Linked DNA regions of Homo sapiens. The protein of the gene in region 2 purifies or fractionates together with the protein of the main gene of each other region. This does not show direct contact. Each region holds a gene or a part of one and is shown on either strand. Other genes may lie near its edges.

The links.
Region 1: the proteins of TBCB (region 2) and HK2 fractionate together in Homo sapiens (co-fractionation; one large-scale study listed by BioGRID). This does not show direct contact.
Region 3: the proteins of TBCB (region 2) and TXNDC5 fractionate together in Homo sapiens (co-fractionation; one large-scale study listed by BioGRID). This does not show direct contact.
Region 4: the proteins of TBCB (region 2) and PLBD2 fractionate together in Homo sapiens (co-fractionation; one large-scale study listed by BioGRID). This does not show direct contact.
Region 5: the proteins of TBCB (region 2) and SCPEP1 fractionate together in Homo sapiens (co-fractionation; one large-scale study listed by BioGRID). This does not show direct contact.
Region 6: the proteins of TBCB (region 2) and ANXA6 fractionate together in Homo sapiens (co-fractionation; one large-scale study listed by BioGRID). This does not show direct contact.
Region 7: the proteins of TBCB (region 2) and ISOC1 fractionate together in Homo sapiens (co-fractionation; one large-scale study listed by BioGRID). This does not show direct contact.

Annotation. Positions count from the first base shown.
Region 1 is NC_000002.12:74,836,888-74,841,179, reverse strand, and holds part of HK2 (hexokinase-2), read right to left. Parts: intron 1-4,292. UniProt on the Homo sapiens protein: Catalyzes the phosphorylation of hexose, such as D-glucose and D-fructose, to hexose 6-phosphate (D-glucose 6-phosphate and D-fructose 6-phosphate, respectively).
Region 2 is NC_000019.10:36,117,867-36,122,158, reverse strand, and holds part of TBCB (tubulin-folding cofactor B), read right to left. Parts: intron 1,450-4,292; coding exon 1,353-1,449; intron 633-1,352; coding exon 441-632; exon of another isoform or gene 1-440.
Region 3 is NC_000006.12:7,880,658-7,884,335, forward strand, and holds the end of TXNDC5 (thioredoxin domain-containing protein 5 isoform 1 precursor), read right to left. Parts: intron 2,610-3,678; coding exon 2,487-2,609; 3' UTR 860-2,486; downstream 1-859. UniProt on the Homo sapiens protein: Protein disulfide isomerase of the endoplasmic reticulum lumen involved in the formation of disulfide bonds in proteins. Can reduce insulin disulfide bonds.
Region 4 is NC_000012.12:113,367,968-113,372,259, forward strand, and holds part of PLBD2 (putative phospholipase B-like 2 isoform 1 precursor), read left to right. Parts: intron 1-1,148; coding exon 1,149-1,242; intron 1,243-3,103; exon of another isoform or gene 3,104-3,290; coding exon of another isoform or gene 3,291-3,299; intron 3,300-4,292. UniProt on the Homo sapiens protein: Putative phospholipase.
Region 5 is NC_000017.11:56,994,683-56,998,974, forward strand, and holds part of SCPEP1 (retinoid-inducible serine carboxypeptidase precursor), read left to right. Parts: intron 1-298; coding exon 299-336; intron 337-824; coding exon 825-953; intron 954-2,279; coding exon 2,280-2,373; intron 2,374-3,285; coding exon of another isoform or gene 3,286-3,377; exon of another isoform or gene 3,378-3,702; coding exon 3,703-3,816; intron 3,817-4,292. UniProt on the Homo sapiens protein: May be involved in vascular wall and kidney homeostasis.
Region 6 is NC_000005.10:151,129,732-151,134,023, forward strand, and holds part of ANXA6 (annexin A6), read right to left. Parts: intron 3,457-4,292; coding exon 3,363-3,456; intron 2,841-3,362; coding exon 2,745-2,840; intron 1,559-2,744; coding exon 1,500-1,558; intron 1-1,499. UniProt on the Homo sapiens protein: May associate with CD21. May regulate the release of Ca(2+) from intracellular stores.
Region 7 is NC_000005.10:129,097,276-129,101,567, reverse strand, and holds part of ISOC1 (isochorismatase domain-containing protein 1), read right to left. Parts: intron 3,881-4,292; exon of another isoform or gene 3,802-3,880; intron 1-3,801.

The DNA.
Region 1 (4,292 bases), on a different chromosome or scaffold from region 2:
TCTAAATGAAGAATTTTAAAAAGATAGGCTTTGTCTCTGGAAATTTGAGTAAGGTGGAAATTCTTGCTCTTTATGATAGGCTGGGATAGCCCCTCACAAAAAACGTATCTGTCCCAAAATGTCAATAGCACCAAGGCTGAGAAAACTGCTTTAAAGATAAGCAGAAAGAGCCACTCCAGCACAAGGAAGCATGGTGTGTGATCCACAGAGTGTGATATGAAGACGTGTCCAGTGAGCTATGGGGATTTAATTTGCCACATCCCAACCCCCACAGCTTTTTTTTTTTTTTTTTTTTTTTTTTGAGACAGAGTCTTGCTCTGTCGCCCAGGCTGGAGTGCATTGGTGCGATCTCAGCTCACTGCAAGCTCCACCTCCCGGGCTCAACTGATTCTCCTGCCTCAGCCTCCCAAGTAGCTGGGACTACAGGTGCCTGCCACCACGCCCGGCTAATTTTTTTTTTTTTTTTTTGTATTTTTAGTAGAGACGGGGTTTCACCGTGTTAGCCAGGATGGTCTTGATATCCTGACCTCGTGATCCGCCCGCCTTGGCCTCTCAAAGTGCTGGGATTACAGGCGTGAGCCACCGCGCCCGGCATAACCCCCACAGCTTTGAAAAGGCAAAGACAGACTACGTACAGTGTTGGAAAACAAACCAAACCTGCTGACTTCAAAGCTCAACGATGATAATGAGGAACGTCTTATCAAGATGTGGTCTTTTAAACCGGAAGTATCTGAACAAAGGAAGCCAGTTTTCTGGGGCTCCAAGTTCTTTCAGTTCATCAGATCTCCTTACTCCCATTGCCAACTGTGGTTTGTGTTGCTCTGATTCCCCCCTTGGAAAAGGACCTCCAATTGCCCCAAACTCCCCAGAGTACTGGAAAAGTTCAACTTTGAAAAGTGATGTTTAAAAAAAAAAAAAAAATGCCTGGCGCGGTGGCTCACGCCAAAGTAATCCCAGTACTTTGGGAGGCCTAGGCAGGTGGATCATGAGGTCAGGAGATAAGACCATCCTGGCTAACACAGTGAAAAACCCCATCTCTACTAAAGATATAAAAAAATTAACCGGACATGGTGGTGGGCGCCTGTAGTCCCAGCTACTCGGGAGGCTGAGGCAGGCGAACGGCAGGAACCCAGGAGGCCGAGGTTGCAGTGAGCTGAGATCACGCCACTGTACTCCAGCCTGGGCGACAGAGTGAGACTCCATCTCAAAAAAAAAAAAAAAAAAAAAAGGCCAGGCGCAGTGGCTCACGCCTGTAATCCCAGCACTTTGGGAGGCCAAAGTGGGCAGATCACGAGGTCAAGAGATCGAGACCATCCTGGTCAACATGGTGAAACCCCATCTCTACTAAAAAAAAATTAGCTGGGCATGGTGGTGCGCACCTGTAGTCCCAGCTACTTGGGAGACTGAGGTAGGAGAATCACTTGAACCCAGGAGGTGGAGGTTGCAGTGAGCCAAGATTGTGCCACTGCACTCCAGCCTGGTGACAGAGCGAAACTCTGTCTCACAAAAAAAAAAAAAAATTGACTTTGGCTGAGCTCAGGGGAGTTAATTCATTCAAAGGTAGAGGAAAAAGTGCTTCTTAGCTCTCTCTGAAATGTAAGTTTGGCAATATAAAACAAACGGATGGTTAACAAAAGCTACAAAGTATTCCTAACTACCATCAGTTGTCTTCTGAGCAGAGAAAGGGACAGAGTTAGGTTACCAAGATGTTACATATTGAACAAATGGAGTGAATTGTACCTGTCAATGTCAGTTTGTCCAATCAAAATTAACATAGACAAAAATAATATTATTAAGGTTTCAATCAGCAATTTACTCTTGATACTCTAATCCCATACGTGCGGACTAATGGCACGTGGTAGGTGTCCAAAATGTGCCAAGGTTCCTTGAGGCTCTAACTCCAGCCCCACCCATGGTAATTCACTCTTTTGACCTAGCAGCCATATCTCTCTAGACAACTGAAAAGTATCTGGGTTTCTGTCTCCCATATCACACTCAGAGGGCCTTGCACTCACTGTAGGTTCTTAAAAAAACATTAAAATTCTTGGCTTTCTTGACTCTTGGGGTCTCTGTTCAATCTTTTCGCTTCCAAGATATTCCTCTCAAGCCCAGCATTGAAGGTCACCCCTTGCTCATACAACAAGGAATCTACATGAGCTATGTCTATTACAGGATTCCAGTGCAAATGTCACCAGTCTATGCGTATTAAAACAATTTGGTCAATGGTCAGAGAAAGGAGTATATACTTCATTTTATCTCTATGGTTAACCCTGATTCTCCATTCTTAAATGACAAAATCCTGCATCTTGTATACTAACTTATCTCAATCAATAGAAAGAATCAGCCAGGCGCGGTGGCTCACTCCTGTAATCCCACCACTTTGGGAGGCGGAGTCAGGCAGATCACGAGGTCAGGAGATTGAGACCATCCTGGATAACACGGTGAAACCTCGTCTCTACTAAAAATACAAAAAAATACCCGGGCATGGTGGCAGGCGCCTGTAGTCCCAGCTACTCGGGAGGCTGAGGCAGGAGAATGGCGTGAACCCGGGAGGTGGAGTTTGCAGTGAGCTGAGATTGCGCCACTGCACTCCAGCCTGGGCGACAGAGCGAGACTCCGTCTCAAAAAAAAAAAAAAAAAAATAGAAAGAATCTTCCATCTCTCCATAGGCAGGACACACAGTCTTGATTGCTGAAGGACAGGAAACTCTCCTCCCTTTCTCTCTCCCTCCTCAGGACCGGCCTCAGGTCATGCTTTGGCCTCAGGTCATGCTTTGGATGAAGAGATAACTGCGAACTACCCCTCCAAGTGTCCACCCATATACCATCCCTTTAGCCTAAGACTAGCTGGCCCTGCCCAGCTCCTCCACTTCCTGCAGCCCTGGTTTAGCTTCTTTCTCCAGAAAGGTCTCCTCCTTTACTCTTGTACTCACTGAGCACCTCACCAGTGGCCAGGAACTGCAGCGACAAACCTAACAGCCAAGATTCTCCCTGCCCTGAGGAAGGAACCCAAACTGAAAACCATCAACTCTAACAGATGGTGGAATGAAACAAATGTCATGCAAGGTTCAAACACACTAATGTTGGCACACAGGAGGGGGAGAAGGAAGCAGAAAGAAAATTAAGACAGTAAACTGCATTTGAGCTGGAAGGGGTTAAGTGGAAAGAAGCCAAGCAGAGTTCAGGGCCACAAAAATGGCAAGGGCAGGCCTCGTGCGGTGGCTCACGCCTGTAATCCCAACACTACGGGAGGCTGAGGCAGGTGGATCACAAGGTAAGGAGATCGAGACCATCCTGGCCAACATGGTGAAACCCTGTCTCTACTAAAAATACAAAAAATAGCTGGGCATGGTGGCGCACGCCTGTAATCCCAACTACTCAGGAGGCTGAGGCAGGAGAATCGCTTGAACCTGGGAGGCAGAGGTTGCACTAAGCAGAGATAGCGCCACTGCACTCCAGCCTGGTGACAGAGTGAAACTGTGTCTCAAAAAAAAAAAAAAAAAAAAAAGACAAGGGCAAAAGGACCTAGTGTGAACAGGCAGGACAGAGGAATGAAAGGATGGAGAGGAAGATGAGGCTAAGCTGGGGGGTAGAAGCGGGAGGCAATTAAGAGCTGTAGAGAGCTCCTGAAATGATCCAGTCTGGCTCCAGAAAGAGTTTTAGGGACACCCTTAGCAGGCCTCCAAAGTAACCAAGAGACCAGTTGACAGAGTTAGAGAGTTGATGAAAATGAATCCAGGACTCTCAGCTGGAGTAGCCAGAGGGTACTGGTGCCACTGATCAAACCAACAGAAGAGCTAGTTCCATCTGTGGTCATGATGGGTGGGGGTGCTACCAGCAGCCAGGAGTGGGCAGAGGCCCGGGCCAGGAGCCCGCTCACATTCCCCAGAGACAGGCAAGTATGTGCTCAAGAGCATGGTGCTCTAAAGCCAAATGCATGGCTTCGATTCCCAGCTCGTACAGAAAAGCTGGAGACCTTGGGCAAGTTACCCCTGGGCCTCAGTTAAACAGGGATGCTAATAACAATCAGTCTTCACCTCATGGGGCTGATTTGAATGTTAATAAGCTGACATACCTAAGAGCTTAGAACAGTGCCAGGTACACAGTAGGTGCTCTGCAGTCGCTCCTGAGTTCCAATTGGCAAAAGTGAGGAAATAACCCTGATTCTCATCTCTAATGCCCCAAAACACTGGGCTTGTCCATCAGGAGACGACAAGTGACCTCGTTGGGCAGGTGAACCCAAGCCTTCCACGTCCTCAGACTACAACCCAGAATATGTAAGATTATCTTATC
Region 2 (4,292 bases):
CTTCTGGCGGGAACTCTTCCTCCCTTTTCACCTGGCTGCTGCCTCCTTTCCTTCAGATGCTCCCAGCCTCCAGGTGCTTCCTCTGGGCTCACACAGCCCCCTGTGTTCCCTCACTCCTGCCTTGGTCACGCCGCCCGTTTCCCCACCGCGACTGACACTGCCCCACGCTTCGAAGCGCACAGGCCGCGTGCCTCTGGCTTCTGCTTCCTCCCTCGCTGGACAGATCACTCCGCCTGCGCCTCCCACTTCCCTCCACAAACACTCTGGGCCGTCAGTGTCGGCAGATGGTTCCGTCACCTCCAGGGACTGAGATCGTTTCGAGTCCCCCCCAACCCCGCGCCCCTAGGCAGAGCGTGGTCTCCGAGGCTCCACTGTGCCCCCAACATTTCCTCCCGGCCTTGGAGCCCTGGAGCCCGGGACCGGGCCCGCGAGCCACGCACCTACATACATGACGGTGCCCCGGCGAGGGGATTGTCCCGCCGCCCGCACCTCACAGCGGCTGCCCACGGGGATGGAGCTGGCCTGGGCCTTCTCCTCGGCCAGGCGCTGGGCGGCCTCGGCCTCCTGCTGAGCCCGCTCCTCCTCGTTGTACCGGCCGAGCTTGCTGCGCTTCAGGAAAGAGCGGACCGTGTCTGTGGGCAGAGGGGGCTGGGGTCAGTTGGGGTGTCGGCCGGGCCTAACAGGATGACGCTCCACCCACGAGGGGCCCACGTTCACGGAGGAACTCTCTCTTCCAGGTGACAAAGGGCTGTCACCCAAGCCCCAGGTCTCCCACCACAGCCTTAGCCTCTCCCAGGACTCCTAGGCCCCCCAACTCCACAATCGTAAATGGAAGGGGTGCCGCCTGCACCCCTCACTACAGGACCCATGGTCTCTCACCCCTTCAGCGCACATCTGCCTTCATCATCCGCCTTCCTCCTCCGCCCTCCTCCGGCCCTGAGGCCCCCGGTCTCCCCCAACACTCGATCCGTCCCAGGCGCCCTCACTGACCGCCACCCTGTCCACTCGCATTCCACCTGTCCTGCCCTCCACACCCCGTCCGACCGCCCCATGCCCCCATCTGACCCTGACAACACCCAGCCCCCACACCTACCCCTCAACTCCCTCCACTTTCCCAGCCCTCCCCCGACCACGTCTGACTGCCCATACCCCTGACACCTCCCGGCCCTCATTCCCACCCCAGGCCTCCGTCTGTCCCCACTCCCAGCCTCACCCCTATATCCTCCCAAGCTCTCGGCCCCCCGTCTACACCACTGGCCTCCCTGCAGGGGCCCTGTCTAACCTGCCCGCCCTCATACCTGCACATACTCCCTCTGGCCCCCACGCACCCCTCGACGCCCACCTGCCCGTACCTTGCCTCTGGTCGTAGGCTTCTTGTGAGATCGTGTACTTCTCCACCCGGGACACGTCCTCATACTCACCAAGGCGGGCGCCACTGTGGTCAATGACCTGTGTGAGGGGAGGGGCTCCGTGGGGATCAGGGTCTGGCCAGGGAGGCCTGGGTGCTGGGTGCAGGGACTTCAGTGTCTCCATCTGGGAAAAACGCATCTCCCTCCCTCGCCTGTACTGCAGCCTTCTCTTCTCTCCTGAGCCCAGCGGAAGGGAGAAGTAGCTACGTACACTGGCCACCTCCCCTTCCTCACCCCCATCCAAGCTCCCAGAGGCTGCCTCTGTCCCCAGAAGTTCCCCGCTTGCTGGCATCAACATCGCCAAGGGCCCCAAAGTCACAGAGTCCAACCGGCAGAGCTCAGGCCTTGCCCACAGCCCTGTGCACAGCGCATCTCCTCGATGGGCCTCTGGGACTCTCCTAAGCTGGCCCCAACCTCAGGCCCCAGAGCATCTCTTCCTGTTCTGCCCCCACTATTCATTCATTCATTGGTTTCCGAGCTCCCAGGGGCCCAGCTGGGCCTCATGCTGGGGACTCAGTGTAAACACAGACGCACTCTGCCCTCAGGCTGTGCTCATTGTGCAGGGAGAAGGCCAACCACAAACAAAGGAACAGGTACCTATGAAACACTGGAGGATGGCTATGGAGAAAAATATGACAGGGAAGAGGCTTAAGGAGCATGGGAGGGTAGGCTTCCCAAAAGAGGGGATGTTTCAGCCAAGGCTGGAAAGATGAGCAAGAACGGCAGGTGCAGACGGCCAGAGGTAGAAATGTCCTTCACGCTCTAGAGTGGGTGGTGCGGGTGGGGTGGAGCGAGCCAGAGGGAGAGTGGAAGACACAAGGGACTGCTGGAGACTTTGGGTTTTTTTTTTTTTTTTGACGGAGTCTCGCTCTGTCACCCAGGCTGGAGTGTGGTGGTGTGATCTCAGCTCACGGAAACCTCTGCCTCACTGCAAATTCAAGTGATTCTCCTGCCTCAGCCTCCCGGGCAGCTGAAACTATAGGCACACACCACCACACCCGGCTAATTTTTGTATTTTTAAGTAGAGACGACATTTTGCCATGCTGGTCAGGCTGGTCTAGAACTCCTGACCTCAAGTGATCTTCCCACCTCAGCCTCCCAATGTACTGGGTGGGATTACAGGCACGATCCACCGCACCTGGCCTAGACTTTGGTTTTTATCTGGAGCGAAGTGCCACCAGGGCAGGGCTCTGAGCTAGGAGGGCCCTGGCCTGACTCAGGTGGTCCCAGGCTCCCTCTGGCTGAGATGGGGAGCGGGGAGGCCAGGGAGGAAGCTGCCGGGATGGCGAGGTTGGGGGAAGGATGGAGGCTGGACCAGGGTCAGGGAAGTTTTTGTAGGTGGAGCCGAGAGGATTTGATGAGAGTGGATGTGGGGGTGAGGGAGAGAGCGGGCCCAAGGAACACCCTGAGGTGTCTGGCCTAAGCCACTGGGCTAACATGGCAAAATAGGAATGGCCTTTACCTCCGGATGAAGCGTCACTGAGAATTTCTGTTGAGAATTTTCACAAATTTGAAGTTCTGTTATTTTAAACAATGAATATGGGTGATATTTATAAAGAGAAAAAGAATTTTAGAAAATGTAAAAATTCCCCAGTGGCTCCACTCTGGAACACCTTCCTTGAGTGGCCTGGGAGGTCTGTGTGTACCTGAACCGCCTGTTATGAAACCTGCTCAAAGATGCCACTGCCTATGAGGTGCCTATGAACACCCGCACCCCTTAGCTTCAGCTGCCCAGGGTGGCCCAAAGGCTCAGTCCTGTGCACCCAGCAGAGGCCTGACCCACAGCTCCAGACCTCGTCCCCTCATCAGGACTCTCACAGCAGCCCCTTCCTGGTCTCCCTACTCTTCCTGTCCTCCACCACCTGTTCCCCACACACAGCCAGAGGGGGCCTGTGAACACCTGAGCCAGGTCAGGGTCCTCCCCAGCTTCCACAGTGTTTGGCCACAGAAGTGGCCTGTCTTAATCCCCACCGCGCTCCCTCCCACCTTGGAGTGTTTGCTGGGTTGTGCCCCACTCCTAGGGCACCCCTTCCCCATCTTCAGTTAACCTTTTTTTTTTTTTTTTTTTTAAAGATAGGATCTCACTCTATCATCCAAACTGGAGTGCAGTGGTGTGATCTCAGCTCACTGCAACTTCCAGCTCCTGGGTTCAAGTGATCCTCCTGCCTCAGCCTCCTGAGTAGCTAGGATTACAGGCATCTGCCACCACGCCCAGCTAATTTCTGTATTTTTAGGAGAGACGGGGTTTCACCGTCTCGAACTCCTGACCTTAAGTGATCTGTCCACCTCAGCCTCCCAAGGCACTGGGATTACAGGCGTGAACCACCATGCCCGACCAATTCTTTTTATTCTTCTCGTCTCTGCTCCAGCAGCACCACCTCCAGGATGTCCTCCCAGACGTCACTGATGCATCAGGTACCCCAGGATAGGGTCTCCCAGCTTCATGATCTCCTACACAACCCTTGTCTCCCCTGACCCTTCACATTCAGTCCTCTGGCCATTTAGCCAACATCTGCCTCATACACTAGAACTTCTCAGATGCAGTCATAATGAAACCCCTGGCACAACACAGATGGGGAATGAACAGTTAATCAACGAGAGAAAAAAGAAGCAGTTCTCTCTAGAGTCATGTAGACTGGGGCCAAAATGCTACTGACAGTTCATCCTTAAGAAAGTAGATTCTGGGCCGGGTGCGGTGGCTCATGCCTGTAATCCCAGCACTTTGGGAGGCCGAGGTGGGCGGATTACCTGAGGTCAGGAGTTCGAGACCAGTCTGACTAACATGGTGAAACCCCGTCTCTACTAAAAATACAAAAATTACCCTGGTGTAGTGGCGGGCATCTGTAATCCCACCTACTCGGGAGGCTGAGGCAGGAGAATCGC
Region 3 (3,678 bases), on a different chromosome or scaffold from region 2:
CTGTAGATCAAGCTATTTGGGGTGTTTGTTAGTAAATAGGGAAAATAATCTCAAAGGAGTTAAATGTATTCTTGGCTAAAGGATCAGCTGGTTCAGTACTGTCTATCAAAGGTAGATTTTACAGAGAACAGAAATCGGGGAAGTGGGGGGAACGCCTCTGTTCAGTTCATTCCCAGAAGTCCACAGGACGCACAGCCCAGGCCACAGCCAGGGCTCCACGGGGCGCCCTTGTCTCAGTCATTGCTGTTGTATGTTCGTGCTGGAGTTTTGTTGGTGTGAAAATACACTTATTTCAGCCAAAACATACCATTTCTACACCTCAATCCTCCATTTGCTGTACTCTTTGCTAGTACCAAAAGTAGACTGATTACACTGAGGTGAGGCTACAAGGGGTGTGTAACCGTGTAACACGTGAAGGCAATGCTCACCTCTTCTTTACCAGAACGGTTCTTTGACCAGCACATTAACTTCTGGACTGCCGGCTCTAGTACCTTTTCAGTAAAGTGGTTCTCTGCCTTTTTACTATACAGCATACCACGCCACAGGGTTAGAACCAACGAAGAAAATAAAATGAGGGTGCCCAGCTTATAAGAATGGTGTTAGGGGGATGAGCATGCTGTTTATGAACGGAAATCATGATTTCCCTTGTAGAAAGTGAGGCTCAGATTAAATTTTAGAATATTTTCTAAATGTCTTTTTCACAATCATGTACTGGGAAGGCAATTTCATACTAAACTGATTAAATAATACATTTATAATCTACAACTGTTTGCACTTACAGCTTTTTTTGTAAATATAAACTATAATTTATTGTCTATTTTATATCTGTTTTGCTGTAACATTGAAGGAAAGACCAGACTTTTAAAAAAAAAGAGTTTATTTAGAAAGTATCATAGTGTAAACAAACAAATTGTACCACTTTGATTTTCTTGGAATACAAGACTCGTGATGCAAAGCTGAAGTTGTGTGTACAAGACTCTTGACAGTTGTGCTTCTCTAGGAGGTTGGGTTTTTTTAAAAAAAGAATTATCTGTGAACCATACGTGATTAATAAAGATTTCCTTTAAGGCAGAGGCTGGTCGAGATGCTGCTGTTATCTTCTGCCTCAGACAGACAGTATAAGTGGTCTTGTTTCTAAGATTCCTACCACCAGTTACTTTGGGCCAAGTATCCACATCCCCTTGCGTATGGGAGGTGGGTGAAGAGTGTTGGATGCAAAGTGGTTATTATGGGAAGTAGCTCGATGGTAAAAGGACAAACACCTATCTATCTTAGAGCTTAAGCCTGTATGTGCTTATTCCCAAGGGAGATAGAGGTGTTTAATCACAAGGACAGCATGAGTTAGAGGACACTGGCATCAACAGCTGCCACAGCCGTGCACACCAGGGCCAGAGCAGCCCACTGACATCTGTCTTTGGTCTTGAGATCAAATGCATCCCATTCTTCATACATTAGAAGGTCGACCTCCTTGAAGCAGACCAAGTATAGCAAGCCTCTAAAAGGACTACTGAGAAACAGAATCAGAAACTCTAGAACTCTAGTTAGGGCCCTTCAGCAGGGCTGCAGAGCCTCCCTGGATACCCAGGCCTGGGAAAGCCTGTCTGGTCTTGTCACCCCAGGTGACAAATACAACTGGAATCTTTCAATGAGTTAATGAGATACTGAGAATGAGCCTCGTGGAATTTTCCATGCCTACCCTTTCTAAGGAAGACATCCAACAGTTCATGTGGGCTCTGGCTTCGTGTTAACATGAGGAACTAAAGACATGTTTCACCCCGTGAGAAACAGAAGGATCCCCTGAACAGTAACTGATTTGACAAGTATCGACACATAAAGTTATGGCATCAGCATTCTCTTACTCAGGCACGGTCAGAAGTAACGCTGCTTTCATCACGGCTAACCTCTCACACTGAGAGAAGTATTCACAGCAACAGAAGCTCCAGCAGCGGCCGTGAAGGTATCTTCCAGAGGTGTGGGTTTTTGCATTTCAATCTGCTCCATGCTACGGACCAACACAGTATTGAGTCAACTGTGACCTTAAGATCAGAGGAACGTCAATACTGCCACAAGGCCACCTTTCCAGAACTCGTGGGCAGGTAAACTATGCTTTGGATGTGCTTTCTTTCACCAAAATCACTCAACTCAGGAGCCACAAATAGTCCAGCAATTTCATTTCCCTCAACGCTATTTTAGTCTCAAAGGAAACCATGTAAATTTCATCAAGAGAAGGTCAAAGGGGATATATCGCCACTGAAAATGTTTACACAGTGACCATGAGTTACACATTTACTTAGAGAAACTTAACTTAATAAAGAATCTGTAGAGTGTGTTGGCTTGGAAAACACACACACAAAGAAGATACCTCACGCTTAGTATGTTCTGCTTTCTGAACAGCCACCACTGGGAACCCAGTGGCCTCTGTGGGACTGAACTCCTAAACGCAGGGTGCGGGAGCTGGGCAGGAGAGGTGACCTCCAACTGTGTTCCTAAAGTTCGTCTTTCGCTTGGCTCAGGACAAAGCGGTGTAACGAGTCAAGGTCTCTGCCTCCACTGTGCTCACTGACTTTCTTCCCTCCTCGGAAAAGCAATAACGTGGGGTAGCCTCGTACCTTAAAACAAAAAAGAAAAAAGTTTGCAAACCAGCGGTCCAGATCACATGCAAATTGCTTCCTAAATAAAACCAGATACACTCCTACCGTTGTGGCTGGAAAAATTCTGTGGCTAATTTTTAAAGGTGTATATTCCATTAAAACAGGAGCAGACTACTGTTTAGAAAGCACAGCCGTGGGGCTGTGTGTTCACTTCTGAATTCAAAATGACATCATTAAAGATCAGCCTCAAAGGAACGACTTTACCCTAAAGCAGACGCTTTCAGTCTTTACTGTGCACACGATCACCTGCGGATCTGCTGAAGGTGCAGATTTGGATTGAGCAGGCCTGGGAGTCTGCATTTCCAATGACCTCCCTGGCGATGCCCTGGTGGTCTGCAGACCAGACCATGAGAGCAAGATCCTCTTGAGGATACATGTTTCAGTGGCAACTCGTTTCTAAGAATTTTAGGGCACAAAAAACAACTGGTATCTTTTAATGATAAGGAAACTATGTCTGGGTTACGTCTATTCTCCATCTAAAGGGCTCCAAAAGTGTCTGAATAACAAAGAAGAAAAAAAATGACAAATCTTCCAGGCCATCAGACTGTGCTAACAGCTTGGAATGAAGGCAGTAGTTAACCCAAGCACAGGACCGACTTGCTGGCATGGCCCTTTCAGAAAGGAGGTTATGTTGAAATGATTCTTAGATTCAGCCACTGCATTTTATAATGCTGGCTTATGTGTGAAAAATGAGCGACTCGGGTATTTATGGCAAAGGCTACAGACCACTGGTCAATCATCAAGAGTCGCGGTGTGGGAAGCCCCACAGTCTATGGCGTGGGGTCTGTTACTTCACGGCCTTGTTACTCAGACAGCAAGGCCTGAAAACCTGCACTGAAACATGGATACTAACTACAAAGCGGGCGAAGAAGAATGCCTTCCCTTTGAGAGAGGATCTCTTTTGCTTCTCCAAACAAACAACTCAAAGGGACATAAAAACCACATTGTTGAGAAGATGAGAGCAGAGTGAGTTATCGTGGTTGAGGCACAGTTCCCTTGGGATCTGCCCCCATACTGAGAGCTCCCA
Region 4 (4,292 bases), on a different chromosome or scaffold from region 2:
GCTACCCCGGAGGCTGAGGCAGGAGAATCACTTGAACCTGGGAGGCAGAGGTTGCAGTGAGCTGAGATCATGCCAGTACCCCCCAGCCTGGGAAACAGCCAGACTCTGTCTCAGGAAAAAAAAAAAACAAGAATCTCAGACCCCATTGCAGAACTGATCAGAACCTGCCTTCTAACCAGGCCTTCAGGTAACCTGCATATATACATCAGAGGTTGAGAAGTGCTCCTTCAGAGGAGTGGGAGCCAGCCTGCCTGGAAGTGAATCCTGCCCCTGCCAACTCTGTGACCTTTCACATGTATCCGCTAGTATTGGGCAGCAGTGCTGTGTGATAAACCAGCCCCAATCCAGCAGCTTAAACCAACAACATTGATTCTCATGGATCCGTGGGGCTGCTGGGGCAGCTCTACTTCATGCTGCAGCTCTACAGACCTGGTGTGCTTGTGTGGCTCTCATATCCCTGGGACCAGTGGGCTGGCCGGGGCTTGTTCTTCCCATGGTGATGGCAGAGGCACAAAGGGGCAAGTGAGGCTTCCTGAAGGCTAATCTTATAACTAGCATGCTGTCACTTCCACCCATATCCCATTGGCCAAAGCAGGTCACGTGACACAACCAAGCCCAAATGAAGGAGCAGGGAAGGATACTTGGCCATTGGTGGAGGACTGTAGTCTCGTGGCAAAGGGCATGGACATGGGGGTGGGGATGGCATGTGACATAAGTCTGTGTTTTAATTTCCTCCTCTTCTGCAAGAGGGACAAGATGGGGACGTGCCCACCTTGTAGGATTATAGGGGACTCAATGAGTTAATAGACATGAAAGTGACTAGAACATGGCGTGGCACAGAGCTAACATGTCATCCTCAATGGATGTTGTTAGCTGGTGTTATTGTGGGTAAGGGAATATAGATATGTTCTGCATTTTTGGGGGAGGCTGTTTGTCAATATCTATGAAAATTAAAAATACGTGTACCCTTTGAGCCAGTAGTTCCTCTTGGAGGGATTTAATCCGGCAAGCTCACAAAGATGGACAGACAGACATTCACGTGCACGTCTACTGACCACTGTGTTGTTTTCATAGTTTAAGCCTGGAGATGCCATGTGTCTAGCTGGGGGCCTCTGCTGCTGACTGAGTGTCCCCTCCTTCCCCTCCAGGTGGGCCTTCCTGGAGCTGGGCACAAGTGGCCAATACAATGACAGCTTGCAGGCCTATGCAGCCGGTGTGGTGGAGGCTGCTGTGTCGGAGGAGGTAAGGGCCAAGGTGGGGACATGGGGCTCCCACCCTGCCCCAGCCCCACAAGCATGTTCCCCAGTGTGCTTTTGAGATGTGTGCAGAGTAGGCCCCCAACTCCTGCCACAGCCCTTCATCTATCTGGGGAGAAAAAGTGGACATGCATTCTTTAGAAAATTACACTAGGGGCCGGCCACTGCACCTGGCTCTCACCCACTTCTGATATTGTCTGACTTCTTATAAAGCTCAATAACAAGTAAAGCAAAATAGTATGTTGTTCAGGGACTCATCACATGCAGTAAAACTAGCTTAACAAAAGTAAGGGAGTAGGCACAACTCGAATGCCCAGCTGCTGATGAATGGATACATACAACGTGATCTATCATACAATGCAACATTATTCAGCTATAAACGGGAATAAAGGACTGACGCACACCAGAACATGAAAGAACCTTGAAAACATGCTAAACGAAAAAAACCAGTCACAAAAGGGCACATACTGTATGATTCTGTTTATATAAAATGTTCAGAATAAGCAAATCTACAGAGACAGAAAGCCAACTAGTGGTGCCAGGGACTTGGGGGGAGTGGGGAGTGGGGAGTGACTGCTGATGGGTATGGGGTTTCTTTCTGGGATGATGAAAATGTTCTGGAGTTAGAGAGTGGTGATAGTTGCACAACCTTATGAATACATTAAAAACCATGAATTGTACTTTTTTTTTTTTTGAGACAGAGTCTTGCTCTGTCACCCAGGCTGGAGTGCAGTGGTGTGATCTCGGCTCACTGCAACCTCTGCTTCCCAGGTTCAAGTGATTTTCCTGCCTCAGCCTTCCGACTAGCTGGGATTACAGATGTGCACAACCATGCCCACCTAATTTTTGTATTTTTAGTAGAGGTGGGATTTCGCCCTGTTGGCCAGGCTGGTCTCAAACTCCTGACCTCAAGTGATCCGCCCACCTCGGCCTCCCAAAGTGCTGGGATTACAGGTGTGAGCCACTGTGCCTGGCCAAATTGTACATTTTTAAATGTGAATTTTATGGTATGCTGACTATATCTCAATATAAATGACTGAATGAAAGGGAATGATAGCTACCGCATTTAGGGTGGTGGGTGCCTCTAGGGATAGAGGAGGCAGGGGCTTAGGGGATGCTCAATGGTATCAGTACCATTCTAGGTTTTAGTTTGGATGTTCATTTTATTATCATGCTTCATAACTTAGAATATGTTATATATTTTTTCTGTGTATCAGATAGTACCTAGTGTAATTTTCTTTTTCTTTTCTTTTTTTTTTTTTTTTTTTTTTGAGACAGAGTCTCACTCTGTCACCTAGACTGGAGTACAGTGGCGTGATCTTGGCTTACTGCAACCTCTGCCTCCCTGGGTTCAAATGATTCTCATGCCTCAGCCTCCAGAGTAGCTGGAATTACAGGCATGCACCACCACGTCTGGCTAGTTTTTGCATTTCAAGTAGAGATGGGGTTTTGCCATGTTGGCCAGGCTGGTCTCAAACTCCTGACCTCAAGTGATCTGCCCACCTCGGCTTCCCAGAGTGTTGGGATTACAGGTACGAGCCACCTGGCCTAGGCTAGGCAGACATGCTATCAGGCATTGATGACCACTTTACAGAGACAGCTTGTCATGTGTACTTCACAGTAAACACCGACATTTTCCAGGGAATCCATAAATTACTGACTTTTCCATTGATGGCCTAACCAGTGGCCCAAAGGCAGAGCACCTGCCTGTAATCCCAGGATGTTGGGAGGCTGAGGAGGGAGGACTGCTTGAGCTCAGGAGTTGGAGGCTGCAGTGAGCTAGGATTGTACCACTGTACTCCAGCCTTGTGACAGAATGAGACCTTGTCTCAAAAAAATGAAACAAAACAAAACCACACAAAAAACAAAACAAGAAGTAGGCGAGGCTGTGGAGTGACAGCTGTCTCCTGTGATGCAGATGGAGGCATGCATTGGGTCACAAGTTGACATCAACTTGTGGAGTTGAACCTGCATGTGCCTTAGGATCCAGCAGCCCTACTACTTGGGTGCATACCTTAGAGGTGACCCACGGACATGCACAAGGTACTCAAAGCAGTCCCAAAGTGGGAGTCCTTAAAACACCATGGGCAGGTGAATGGCTGACCAGGTGGAGGTGCACAGTGCAGCATGACAGAGCAGTGGAAATGGGTGAATCTGAGATGCCTGGAGGCGAGGGGGAAAGAGCACATCACAGAGGACAACGTCCAGTGGGACACCCTTTTATAAAACTCACACTGCTCCTTCTGACACCCAGTCGCAGTTGTGGGTGGCCCTCTGGGACCTTAGTGTCTGGGGAAGTGGTCAGATGCTGGGCCAGGGCTGTTGTGGGTGCTCAGTGGTGAATGAGACACGGTTCAGTCTCTCAAGGGGCTCACGGCCTGCTGGGGACACTGAGGCAAGGCCACAAGTGGCTCTTATGTCAGGAATCCCAGGCCCATGTGCCAGGCACTTTGCCCACAAAGTCTCACTGAGCCTCCACCCTAAACCCCTGAGGGAAGCATGTGCACCTCCCCTGGATGGATGGGCAGGCTTGGGCCCAGAGAGGTGAAGCTACTTTCACAAGGTCAGCCAGCCAGTCCACAGAGGAGGCACCATTCAACCTCAGCTCTGTCTAACCCACGTCTCGCTCCTAACTAGTGTGCCCTGCTGCCTCCCCCTCTAGCCTGTGGCCTTCTTGTGGGTGGTAATATGTCTTGTCCCCAGCTGTGTCCCCTGATCCCAGCCCAGAACCTGGTATAGGACAGGCAGTGGGGAAATGCTGTGGAAGTCATGGAGGCCTGCATGGAGGAGGTGGTGTCTTAGTGGGCCTTGAAGGATGAACAGGATTTGGATGTGTTTCAGTGAGATGGTGATGGAGCAGCAGTCATGAAGCCATCAATCCTGAGGCAGTGAGTGCTGCCACTCACTCACGGGGATGACCAGGCTACGTGGTCTTTTGTCCCCCAGCAGGCGAGCCTGGACTCATGCAGGTGGCATCTCGGTGGGAAGTGCAGAGGGCCGCATGAAGTCTGGGTGAAACTGCCACGGCATTCTCTT
Region 5 (4,292 bases), on a different chromosome or scaffold from region 2:
CCTGTGGGGATGCTGTCATCGGCAATGACTCACTTGCTGGACCAGTATCAGGCCAAATTAATGTGCCATTAGTCTTAAGAGTCAACAGAAAGGCCCCCACACCCTTATCCCACCTTCCAGACACTGAGACATCAGCCCGCCTCCTGCATGGGTACAGGTGAATTGAGGAGCCTTCCAATCCAAAGCCACCGGGTTTCTTGCTTCTGTCTCTTTCTTCTTTAGAGAGAAGACAGTAGGTTTGTCTTTGGAAAGACAGAGGTATGACATACTTGATTTGTACATATGTGATTTCCTTTAGATTCGGTGCTCTCCTGGGGACCTTACCTGTACAGCATGGTAAGTAGATACACATCTGCACCCTCTGGGCAAACAGCCCAGCAGATCTCTTCTGGCTGTGACCCCAGGAAAAGAGATGCTGGATGAGTTTGCCTATGTGGTTGACACTGCTTTTTAGGGACTAGTCATCCACATAGAGTTGGAGACCCAAAGCAAGAGCTCGCCTCAGGGACAAATTGAAAGAAAATCAGCACACATCACTTTTTTCCAGATATAAGAAACACATTTTTCCAATGCCCTAAATTTTTATTACAAAAATTTTCAAATATGCAGAAATGTTGAAAGATCACGGTGAATACCTACTTAGGTTCAGTTAACAATTTGCTGTGTTTCATCCAATAAACATGTGGCTTGTAACAATACACTTTGATATGTGAGCTCCCGTTCTCCTTCCTTCCCCTCTTTCTCCTACCCCTCCCTAACTGCAGCAATACCAGATTGACGTTCCCAAGTAAAGTGGGTCTTTTTGCTCTTGGTTTGCATTCCAGTCTCTTCTCGAAGACAAAGGTCTGGCAGAGGTGTCTAAGGTTGCAGAGCAAGTACTGAATGCCGTAAATAAGGGGCTCTACAGAGAGGCCACAGAGCTGTGGGGGAAAGCAGAAATGATCATTGAACAGGTAAAAAGGGGAAACACTCAGAGGCGAGCCTGCTTGGCTTTTTCTGGTGGGTACAGGGCCCATGGTTGGTGTTGTCAAACTTGGAGTCTACACTGAGGCTCCCCACATATCTGCAAATGATTGCATGCTGGATAATAAATCTCTTGGGTCTAAGCAGTGATGTAGTGGCTCCTTACAGAGTCAGAAAGCCACCCAGGCCTGCAAGACTTGCTTGTCCTTCACTAAATGTATGGATTCTATTAAAAAAAAAAAAAAAAAAGACTGTCTTGCAGAGGTGAGTGTGTGGAGAAAACACATTCCCTTATTGGGACCCTTGCCAAGCAACATTCTGACTCCAGAGAGCCAGAAGGAAAGAATGCGTAGGCTAAGGACTTGGGAGTGTAGGCCCCTCTGCAGCTCTGTTCTCCCTGTAAATTAACACCTAGGCCCTTGGTTTTTTCCCTGCAGGGCCTGATCACTGCTCATATGAGATGCTCACCACTCCAGGGAGAGTGGGCTGACACAGCTGGTTTCTGAGACTTCAGAGCTGCATTTCTTTCTTTATTTTATTTTTTACTTTTTCTTTTTTCCTCTATTTATTTATTTATTTATTTATTTTTGAGACACTCGCCCAGGCTGGAGTGCAATGGCACAGTCTTGGCTCACTGCAACCTCTGCCTCCTGGGCTCAAGTGATTCCCCTGCCTCAGCCTCCCGAGTAGCTGAGATAATTGGCACGCACCACCGCACCCAGCTAATTTTTGTATTTTTAGTAGAGAAGGGGTTTCACCGTGTTGCCCAGGCTGGTCTTGAACTCCTGACCTTAGGTGATCCACCCACCTCAGCCTCCCAAAGTGCTGGGATTATAGGCGTGAGCCACCGCGCCTGGCCTCTTTTTCCTTTCTTTCTTTTTTATTTTTTTTTGAGACTAAGTCTGGCTCTGTCACCCACACTGTAGTGCAGTGGCCCGATCTCGGCTCACTGCAACCTCTGCCTCCTGGGTTCAAGTGATTCTCATGCCTCAGCCTCCAGAGTAGTTGGGACTACAGGTGAGCACCACCACGCCCGGCTGATTTTTGTGTTTTCAGTAGAGAGGGGTTTCACCATGTTGACCAGGCCGGTCTCGAACTCCTGGGCTCAAGTGATCCACCCACCTCAGCCTCCCGAAGTGCTGGGATTACAGACATGAGCCACCAGGCCCAGCCAAAGCTCTATTTCTTTCTGATCCAAGCAGATATACAAAATTAAACCTGTCCTTGGATAAGATAAAGAGCCATGTGTCCTTCTGTTTGGCAGCTTTGATGATAGGAAAATGAAACAAACAGCCAAATAAACTTTTATATTTCAGAACACAGATGGGGTGAACTTCTATAACATCTTAACTAAAAGCACTCCCACGTCTACAATGGAGTCGAGTCTAGAATTCACACAGAGCCACCTAGGTGAGTGAACCTTGAAGTTATTAAAGTCCCTGCCTCAGCCTCCATGCAAAAAGAAACCTGTTTATTAAAAAAAAAAAAAACTTTATTAACATATAATTTGCATACCATAAAATTAACTCACTGTAAGTGGTTTTCAGTATATTCCCAGAGTTGTGCAGTCATCACTACAATCCAGTTATGGAGCATTTCTGTCACCCCAAGGAGATCCCACGTGTCTGCTTGCAGACAGTTCTCATTCCCACTCCCAGCCACAGGCAACCACTCATCTGCCTTCTGTCTCTCTAGATTTTCCTTTTCTGAACATTTTATATAAATACAATCGCACAATAGTTAGTCTTTTGCACTGGCTTCTGTCACATAGCATGATGTTTTTGAAGTTTAGAAACCAGCTTCCATACACCAAATTACAACATCAGTTCAAGACTGAATTTAGTCATCTTTCAGCCAACCAAGAAGCATATAAAGGCTGCAGGATACCCTAGGTTCCACTTTCTAGATGATTCTCTTTGGCCGTTCTGGAGAATCCCAATGGCCCCCAAGTCTATAGAATGTATAATCAATACTATTAGGTTGGTGCAAAAGTAACTGTGGTTTTTGACAGGTTTCAAGAATTATTAACTCACAACTAATGAAGCATTATTTCCCTTCCCACCCAGTTCCCTACCAACCCCTTATTTTGAACCAATTTTGACAAATCTATTTTTTCCCTTTTTTTTTTTAAGAGATAAGGTTTCACTCTGTTGCCCAGGCCAGAGTGCCATTGAATTTGAGAAATTCTGCCATTACTTTTAATGGCAAAAACCGCAGTTACTTGTGCACCAACCTAATAATAAAGCCTCTCCACTTTCAATGTGTTTCTGACTTCCTTCCTCCCGCTGGGGGTGAATCAAGGTGACGCTTTTCCTTTTCCAGCTGAATCTGAAACCCTCCCTCTTGCTGTGCAGCATCCCCAGCAGCTTGGTAAAGATGTCCTCATGGCCAGGCGTGGTGGCTCACACCTGTAATCCCACCACTTGGGAGGCTGAGGCGGGTGGATCATGAGGACAAGAGATCGAGACCATCCTGGCCAACATGGTGAAACCCTGTCTCTACTAAAAATACAAAAATGAGCTGGGCATGGTGGCGGGTGCCTGTAGTTCCAGCTACTCGGGAGGCTGAGGCAGGAAAATCGCTTGAACCCAGGAGGCGGAGGTTTCAGTGAGCCGAGATCGTGCCACTGCACTCCAGCCTGGAGACAGAGAGAGATTCTGTCTCAAAAAAAAAAAAAAAAGATGTCCTCTTGGCCTTACTTCCAGCCCTTTGACTCACTATCTACCAGTTTGGTTTTAGTTTGTCTTTGTCAGCGCCACGTGAGACACCTACAACGAGATGCCTTAAGCCAGCTCATGAATGGCCCCATCAGAAAGAAGCTCAAAATTATTCCTGAGGATCAATCCTGGGGAGGTACTTATATGACCTAATTAAGTGCCGTTTGTACAGTTATGGGGAGAAAAGAGGTGCAAATTCAGAGACCTGAATTTGTAGGGTGGGTTTTGTTGTTGGTGATGATAGGTTATAGGTAAACAATATTACTATCCACGTTTTGTAGGTGAGCAAATAGATACAGAGACAGTAAATGACTTGTCAGGGCTGGATGCAGTGGCTCACGCCTATAATCCCACCACTGTGGGAGACTGAGTTGAGAGGATTGCTTGAGGCCACAATTAAGCAACATAGTAAAGCCCCATCTCTTTAAAAAAATAGAAAAATTAGCTGGGCATGGTGGCATGTGGCATATAGTTCTAACTACTTGGGAGGCTGAGGTGGGAGGATTGCTTGAACCCAGGAGTTTGAGGGTACAGTGAGCTATGATTATGCCACTGCTCTCCAGCCTGGGCAGCAGAGAGAAACCCTGTTTCTTAAAAAGGGGAAAAAAAAGA
Region 6 (4,292 bases), on a different chromosome or scaffold from region 2:
AGACAGTGTCTCACTCTTGTCCAGGCTGGAGTGCAGTGGTACGATCTCAGCTCACTACAACCTCTGCCTTCCAGACTCAAGCAATTCTCCTGCCTCAGCTTCCTGAGCAGCTGGGAGTACAGGTACCCACCACTACGCCTGGCTAATTTTTGTATTTTTAGTAGAGATGGGGTTTTGCCATGTTGGCCAGGCTGGTCTTGAACTGGCCTCAAGGGCTGCCTTGGCCTCCCAAAATGCTACGATTACACACATGAGCCACCATGCCCGGCCCTCTCACTGTTATAAACCTCTTCTCTCTTCATGTATAATTTCCACACTTGATTTTCCTTATAATTTTACCATAGCTTTGTAACTCTAAGCAATACACTTAGATTTACACATTTTGGAACTCTGCAAATATACCACTGTGCATTTAGGTTTTTGCTGTACTATTCCTGATGGTCACTGGGTTGTTTCTAGCTTTTTCCTAATATAAGCAATACTGTTATAAGTTTTTTTTTTCTTTTTCTTTTTTTTTTGAAGAGGCAGGGTCTCACTCTGTTGTCCAGGCTAGAGTACAGTGGCGTGATCACATAGCACTGCGTTCACTGAAGCCTCAAACCCAGGGGCCCTGTGCTCAAGAAATCCTCCTGCCTCAGCCTCCCGAGTAGTTAGGACTACAGGTATGTGCCACAGTCCCTGGCTAGTTCTATTTGTTATTTTTGTAGAGACAAGGGTCTTACTATGTTGCCCAGGCTGGTCTTGAACTTTGGGCCTCAAGTGATCCTCCCACTTTGGCCTCCCAGAGTGCTGGGATCATAGGTGTGAGCCACTGCATGCACTCAGCCTTGTGATGGGCATTCTTAATGAATTCATGCATACAGGCAAACATCTCTCTAGGGCTGAGCTGCCCAACCTCATTATGGCACACTGGTGGGCAGAGAATGGCCGACAGTCTACTTTGTCCTTTCGGAATGGCCAACCAGGGCCAGAAAGGCCCAAGCTCCTGTGTCTCGGGCCTCAGGCCTCTGGCAGCAAATAACTGCATTCATTTCCTCCAGTGCATCACAAAAATACCAGTTTCTTTGTGCGTCATATGTGTAAAAGCCTGGGAAGCTTTCTCAGAAACACACCCAGAGTGGAACTGTCACAGGGTGAGCATCATGAGTCTTAGCAGGCAAGGCCAAAGTGGTCTTGCCTACATACGCTGTATAAAAACATTCTGGTTAATACTTCTTCAAAGTCCGAGCCGCCAACCCATTTGGCTGGAGGGATCAGGTGCAGGCTGCCACCCTAAGTTCATCTGTTGACTCATGACGTCAGGCAGGTATGCAGGTGGCAGGACATGTGACCAGCAGCATTCCTGGCTCTACAGCTCACCTGCGACAGAGCACCTTCACCAGGGTCAGTCCTGTGGCCATCCCTGAAGGGCTCTCTTTGGCCACTGGATCCCAAGGACTTGTCAAAGACTCCCAATAGTCCTCTCCCCAAACCCCATTCACATCAGCCCCACCACGCACCTTCATAGCCTTGAAGAGCCTTTCAGCAAAATATTCCGGGGTGCTCCGGATACACTTCACTGTGAAGAGGGAGGAAGAGGTAGAGTTATTCTGGCTGCCTCAGAAGGGGGATGGGATGGCCTGACTCCCTCTTTGTTTCTATTCCTTGAGGGCCACCTAGCTCAATACAGGAAGAACCACCGTTCCTGATAGCTCACAGCCCCAGATCACCCCAGACCAACCCACTTTTACCGCACACCCAGGGAATAAACAGGAAATAATCTTGTTGAAATAATCCTTTTGAAGTCCATCACAAAGACCGCCTTTATCTTTCTAGTCCTTTTGGTTTTAACAGGGAATTGAGCTGGGGTGGGGGTAGGGTCTGGGGCGAAGGAGGAAAAGGTGTTTTTTAGACCTGCTACACCAGAAAGGTACTGGCAGCTGAATCATTGTGAATCCCACTGAATCACCGTGAGTCCCACTGGCTGACTACTTCAAACAGGGAGGGCAGGGGATGGCTCTGGGAGGGACGATAAAGGAGCTGCAGGTTTCCCCCAAGAAATACAAACACACAACATATCCCTGACTCAGACATGCTAACTGCTGGAATGCCAGAATTGGAAGGGCTTCTGGGGAGGCAATTAAGGCAGTCCATCCTTCCTGCCCCCACACCCTGCACCCCACTTAACAGATGAGGAAACTGAGGTCCAGCAAGCAGAAGTGACTTGCTCCAAGCCCATGTGGGAGAAGCCCTGGTTTGAATCTTGGCTCCACCACTGACTAGCCAGTTCCTCACATCCTCACGTTCTCAGTACCCCCAACTCATTACAAAACTACCCCTCAGGAAATGATCAGCCTGGTGAGACTCAGTTTCCTCATCTGTGAAATAGAGATCATGGCAGTGGCCACTGCTGGGTCTTTTTTAAAGATTACACACTCAGCACAGTGCCTGGCATGCACTAGATGCTCAACAAAAGTCAACTATTATGATCATCATTATCCTCAACCCAAGTTCAGAGCTCTTTGTCCCCCTGCCAGTGGTGGAGAAGGGAGCTGGAGGAAGTCAGTACCTGAGGCTCAAACCCCCTTCCCGTCCCCAGCCTCAGCCATGCTGCCCTGGAGAAACCTTTAGAATTCACGGCCCACATGGTTTTCTCCTTCCCAATTCTATACCATGTAATTCCCCTTTCCATTCTCAGCCCCTTGTTCCTAGGCCAGTGTTCCAGAATCCCCTAAAGCCCCCAGGAATGCAACGTCAGGACATACCTACGGCCAGCATTAGCTTCTCAAAGTCCCCAGACAGCTCCCCTCGGATGCTGGCTTCAATCGGCTTCCCTGTGGTCTTCAGATACTCATCGAACACTGCGTCAGACAGAGAGACAGGGAGGTTTGAGAGTGCCTCTGTACCCCCGAGAAGAAATGAGGACTTCAAGAGCAGGGGGGCACAGTGGCCAGGACGACTGTCCACCATGAAGCTAGGGCTGGTGCTATGATGGAGGCGACTGGGAGGTCACGCACATCACCAGCGCTGTGCAGATGAGCTTCATAGCTGGTGAGAGACTGTGTCTCATCCCCTAACATGGAGACAGGACTGGCACTGAGATGGAAGGCCAAGCATCCTGTTAATGACTTTGCTGAGGGACTATACAAACTGCTGTCTGATATTAGGTTGGTGCAAAAGTAATTGCGGTTTTTGCCATTCCTTTAAAAACGGCAAAAACCGCAGTTACTTTTGCACCAACCTAATAAACTCAGGACTAAAGTTTGGGTTGGGAATGAAGTAGGTATCATGTTCCATTAGTGGTAAAGAAAAGAAAAGAGATAAAGAAAGGCATTATTGGCATCAACCCAAGGGAGCAGCTTCAGGTCTTCTCTGGAGCTTACCCAACCGAAGATGCTGCTTGCTGCGATTTCCCAAGATGTAAATGAACTGGGCTTCATCTGTTCCCCATTTCAGTTCCCCTGCCTCGTATAGGTCCTGAAGGGGAAGAGGTGGCACTTGACTGAAAGAGGAAACCTCAGGAGACAGGACACACTGACCAAGCCACTCAGAACTGCTGCCTGATCCCTGAACACACGAGTAATTGGTAGCCTGAAGACCTTTGCAAATAAAACAGTCATGCATCATTTAATGATGGGGATACATTCTGAGAACTGCCATTGTTAGGCGACTTTGCCATTGTGTGATCATAGAGCACTCGCACACACCTAGATGGCATAGCCTACTACACACCCAGACTCCGTGGTATAGCCTATTGCTCCTAGGCGGCACACCTACCTGTTCAGCGTGTTATCTTACCGAATACTGTAGGCAACTGCAACACAATGGCAAGAATTTGTGTATCCAAACATAAATAATCATAGAAAAGGCACAGTGAAAATATGGGGTTATAATCTTATAGGACTAGCATCACATATCTGGTCCATAATCTTATGGGACTAGCATCATATATGTGGTCCATCATTAACCAAAACACCATTATGTGGTACATGACTATACCTATATGCCTTTCTTCCTTTCTTTCTGGAGAAACTCCTACTCAACCTTCAAGGCCCAGATTAAGTATTCCATTTTTTTCTCAAAGTACTTCCCGATGCCCCCAGGCACAGTTCTATTTCCCTCCTTTCCTCCCTCTCCTAGGCTCCCATAGCTTTCTACTTCTTTATCACTTTGATCTACTGTATATGATAATGATTTCTTCACCTGTCTATCTCCACACTATTGCATGAGCTCCTCAACAACAGGGACTATGTCATAGCATTCTCTGTATCAGCCCCTGTAGTGCTGCTGGCATGTACTGGGTACTCAAAACA
Region 7 (4,292 bases), on a different chromosome or scaffold from region 2:
CACTTAAGCCCAGGATTGCAAGAGCAGCCTAGGCAACACAGTGAGACCTTGTCTCTACAAAACATATTTTTTTGAGACAGAGTCTCACTCTGTCGCCCAGGCTGGAGTGCAGTGGCGTGATCTCGACTCATTGCAACCTCCACCTTCTGGTTCAAGCGATTCTTGTGCCTCAGCCTCCCAAGTAGCCGGGATTACAGGCGTGCACCACTGCACCCGGCTAATTTTGGTACTGCTAATAGAGATGGGGTTTCACCATGTTGCCCAGGCTGGTCTTGAATTCCTGGGCTCAAGGGATCTGCCTGCCTTGGCCTCCCAAAGTGCTGGGATTACAGGTGTGAACCACTACACCCAACCCAACCATATATATATATATATTTTTTTTTTTTTTTTTTTTTTTTTTTTTTTTGATTAGCTGAGCTTGGTGGCCCAGCTCCTCAGGAGGCTGAGGTGGGAAGATCCTCTGAGAACGGGAGGTCGAGGCTACAGTCCAGCCTGGGCAACAGAGCAAGACCCTGTCTCACAAACAAACAAACAAACAAACAAACAAAAACAATAGGGAATCTGGGTACAGGAATATAGGAACTCTCTGTACTATCTTTACAACTTTATTGTAAATCTAAAGCTATTCTAAAATAAAAAGTTAGTTTTTTTTTTTTAATGGCCTCCCTATGCTATGATATTTGGGGGAATAACGTCTATACCTTACAAACAGAAAGGAACTTTTGTGGCTACCAAAAACATACTGAAAAACTTTAATCATGTCCAACCAATCCTCCCAAATCCTCACCCCAAATCCACATGAATTCCAACAGGCTGTTAAAATCATACAACTCTCTAAATTTCGGAAATTTCTTACTTTGACTCATGAAGTTCTCTTAAACCAAAATCTTTAAGGTAATTAAAAAATATCGCCAGTAGCCAAACATTTACATGTTGCAACTGTAAGACAGCCAGTCCTGCCTCAGCAAATTAAAAGTGGACTGGACCAAATGTCACCAGGAGTAAAAGCATAGCAATTACAGATCTATGCATATTTAAGGAATATAAACAAATCACATATAAATATATGTATCCACACACCTTCGTATATCTATATGCCTACACATAGTCCTACACACACATTTGCACATGATACATATACAAATATATATATATTTAAATATAAAAAGTTGATCATAGCCAATGGCTTCCTCAAGCAAGAGTTTAAGAGATCAGATTCAAGTATAAATATTTTGTCTACTTTCTTAAGAATTGTCATAGCTGGGATTTGACCTTAGATTTCATACTCAAAAGACTTTTCACATCACCCAGCCCATAGCAAATTACTATAGGGATTTGGAATAATTAAAATTTGAAACTGTAAATGCGATGTTTAAAAAATTTGGTAGTCAATTAGAGTCACAAAATAGGCATGATCTGTTTGGGAGAAAGTCTGGAAGGGGACCTGGGGCATCGTTATTTCACTCCCAAGTGTTTCTGAGGAAATCCGATGACCACAGCTATAGTAAGGCCTGGCTCCAATGTCAACTCACTTACAACAGAGGTCTGTGATGTGACTCCCCCAGGTTACAAAGATCCCCTTTATAGCACAAGCCTCAGTAGGCATTAGAATCTGAGTGCAAATCTCAATTTCACTAATTTCGATTACATGAACTTAGGTAAATATCTCCATATGCAATTTCCTTATCTGTAACACAGCAAGAAAAATAGTATCTACATCATAGGGGTATTTCAAGGATTAAATGGGCTTCATATAATCAATCAATAAATGTATTAGGCTATTCTGATGTCCCTCATATATTAAACACTACACTCTAAAACTTAGCATATGTTAAAAAACTTACCCTCTAATGAGGATAAATATTTACAATTAAGATCCCTTTAGAAACCTATAAATATATTTATAGGAATGCTAACATTGCATAACTTGTTATGTTAACATAATATGCAGAATAAGGAAAGTGAATCATAAAGTGATTTATAAAGTAGATTTCCAGATGTTACCAAGACCTTACCAAATCACTAAGACAAGATTGTTCCTGGAAAAACAGATCAGGGACTTTTTAATTTAGGCTGTGAAATAATACTTATTGGCTCTTATTTTTACAACATATTCACCTATTGTGAACATTGATGTCACTGGCATAAGGTTACAACCCTAGCTTATCAGTTAAGGTATGAGTTTTCTAAATCCCCAAGGGACGCCAGCTGTCTCCACCCACCCCAGGGGTGAGGACTGAAGGATTTCTTAAGACTGTGCCTCAGACTGGGGTGAAGGTGAAGCTAGACAAGCCCAGGACCACAATGACATTTGAATCTACATTGGGATTCCCTTGGTTAGCTAAATGCAAGAAAAAAAATTCAAAATTCAGATCATAGCTCCTACTCTCAAACACAGTTTATTTATAGGTAGCTCTAATGTATTCAGAAGGAGCAAAAAAGGATACAATGCTTTAGGTATTATTCTGGAATGTTAATTTTTTTTTAAGTGACACACATCAAACCAATGGGGTAGAGACAATACAACCACCTCAGGATCCAGCTGTCTCCTCTCTGAGCATTAGCTCATCTACCCCCTCTTCCTGCCACGCTCCTGAGGCAAAGGTTTTGTAATCAAAAACCACTACCTTCAAACTATCAAGCCAAAGGCGAACAAGGTTCCTTTCCTCCTGCCTTCCCTCCCTTCCCACCATGAACCTGTCAGTCTCTTCTAGCTATAAAATGTTCATGCCCCTGTTTAAAATAATAATAATAGTAATAAACTTCCAAGAAAATGAAAGCTGGAGCAAAATGCCCTGCCAGTTAACCATCTTGGGAAAAGGTCAAAATAACCTTCCCTGGAACGCCCTTATCTTCTGGCCACAGAAAGCTGCCAAAGCCTTCCCTGCTATGTACAGAAGTAAAATCCCCTCACTGGCATCCTTCTTACACTGTCCATTTCCTCCTCTCTTCTCTGCAGGCTCTGTCTTTCCTGGCCACAGGCTGGAAAATGCACTGGTGGTAGCATGATACAACATTTATGTAAATTTCCATAGTTAAATGTTTCCTTTACCTAAAACTTACAAAATACCTTTTGAAAAATTAAAACTTTTAAGTCATAAAAATGACGTAAATCCCCACTACATAATCCTCTCATTTATATTCTTTCCCGTGTCTCAAAATTCATCAGATCTCAAGCATTTGGCAAAGCTGCAGACATACAAACCAAGCATGAAACATGAGCTATGCCTTCATCTACCTGAGCTGTCGGCAGACATTGTTACTTTGACAGAATATTTAAGAAAAGAAGTCACCAAAAACTTACCACAGCCTAATACTGGCAATGGGGGGTCTTAAAGATCAGTTCTCATAGAACCACTAACAAGCACGGGTGCAGTGTGGCAAAGGCAGCCACTGTGTTTCACAAGGTCATCAGCCACAGCTGTCAGAATAAGCACGAAGGCAACTCATACCACGGCGCAAATGAAGAATACATTCTAGACTAACAGTACGTGAGCCAGGGCCACAGAGGCTCCAGGGCCCAAGTGTGGAGAAATAATAAATCACTATTTACGCAATGAACTACATGTGGCCAAACTTGTGCTCTTTGTCCCTGCCTTCAAGAAGGGGCCAACCATCCCCAGTAACATGGACTCACCGATAGGCCACCTTGAGTCTTCCTAAGTGACAAGCATTTATTCCAAAGAACAAGGAGCAGCACCAAGACAAATGAACAAACAAGAGCTCAAGTTTGTGACTTGTTTTCCAGACTGCTCAATTCTCATTAAACATGCAAGCAGTAGTGCTGTGTTCGGCTGTAAGTGACGCTCTGCATATGCCTGGCTAGCTCCTCCACACGCATTTGTGGAGGAGCTAGCCAGGCATATGCGGAGACTTGCCATGTAACCTGCAGCAAGTTACTCACCTCCACCTCCCTATGTTCTTCTGCACTTCCTCAAAGTGAAAGTTCATTTATTAGGTAAGGAACAAGAATTGAATCCAAGTTTGCATTCACTGTGCCAGGCATTTAAAGCTGCCACTCACATGTTGTGGAATGAACTGTATGGTCTCTTACAGCCATAAAACATCCAAGTCTCTAGGATTATGCTGTTAGGTTCCAAAGAATATAGTGTACAGTAGTCATGAGAAATATCATGACTTTCTGAGATTATACACACATATGCATATATATGTATGTGTGTATATATATCTCTCTCTTCTCATATAGACATAAATCGGTATCAGAAGGTATATACGATACACAGTGTGTGCATATTTATGTATCTATCCCCTTCCTTTATCTACCTCTAAGC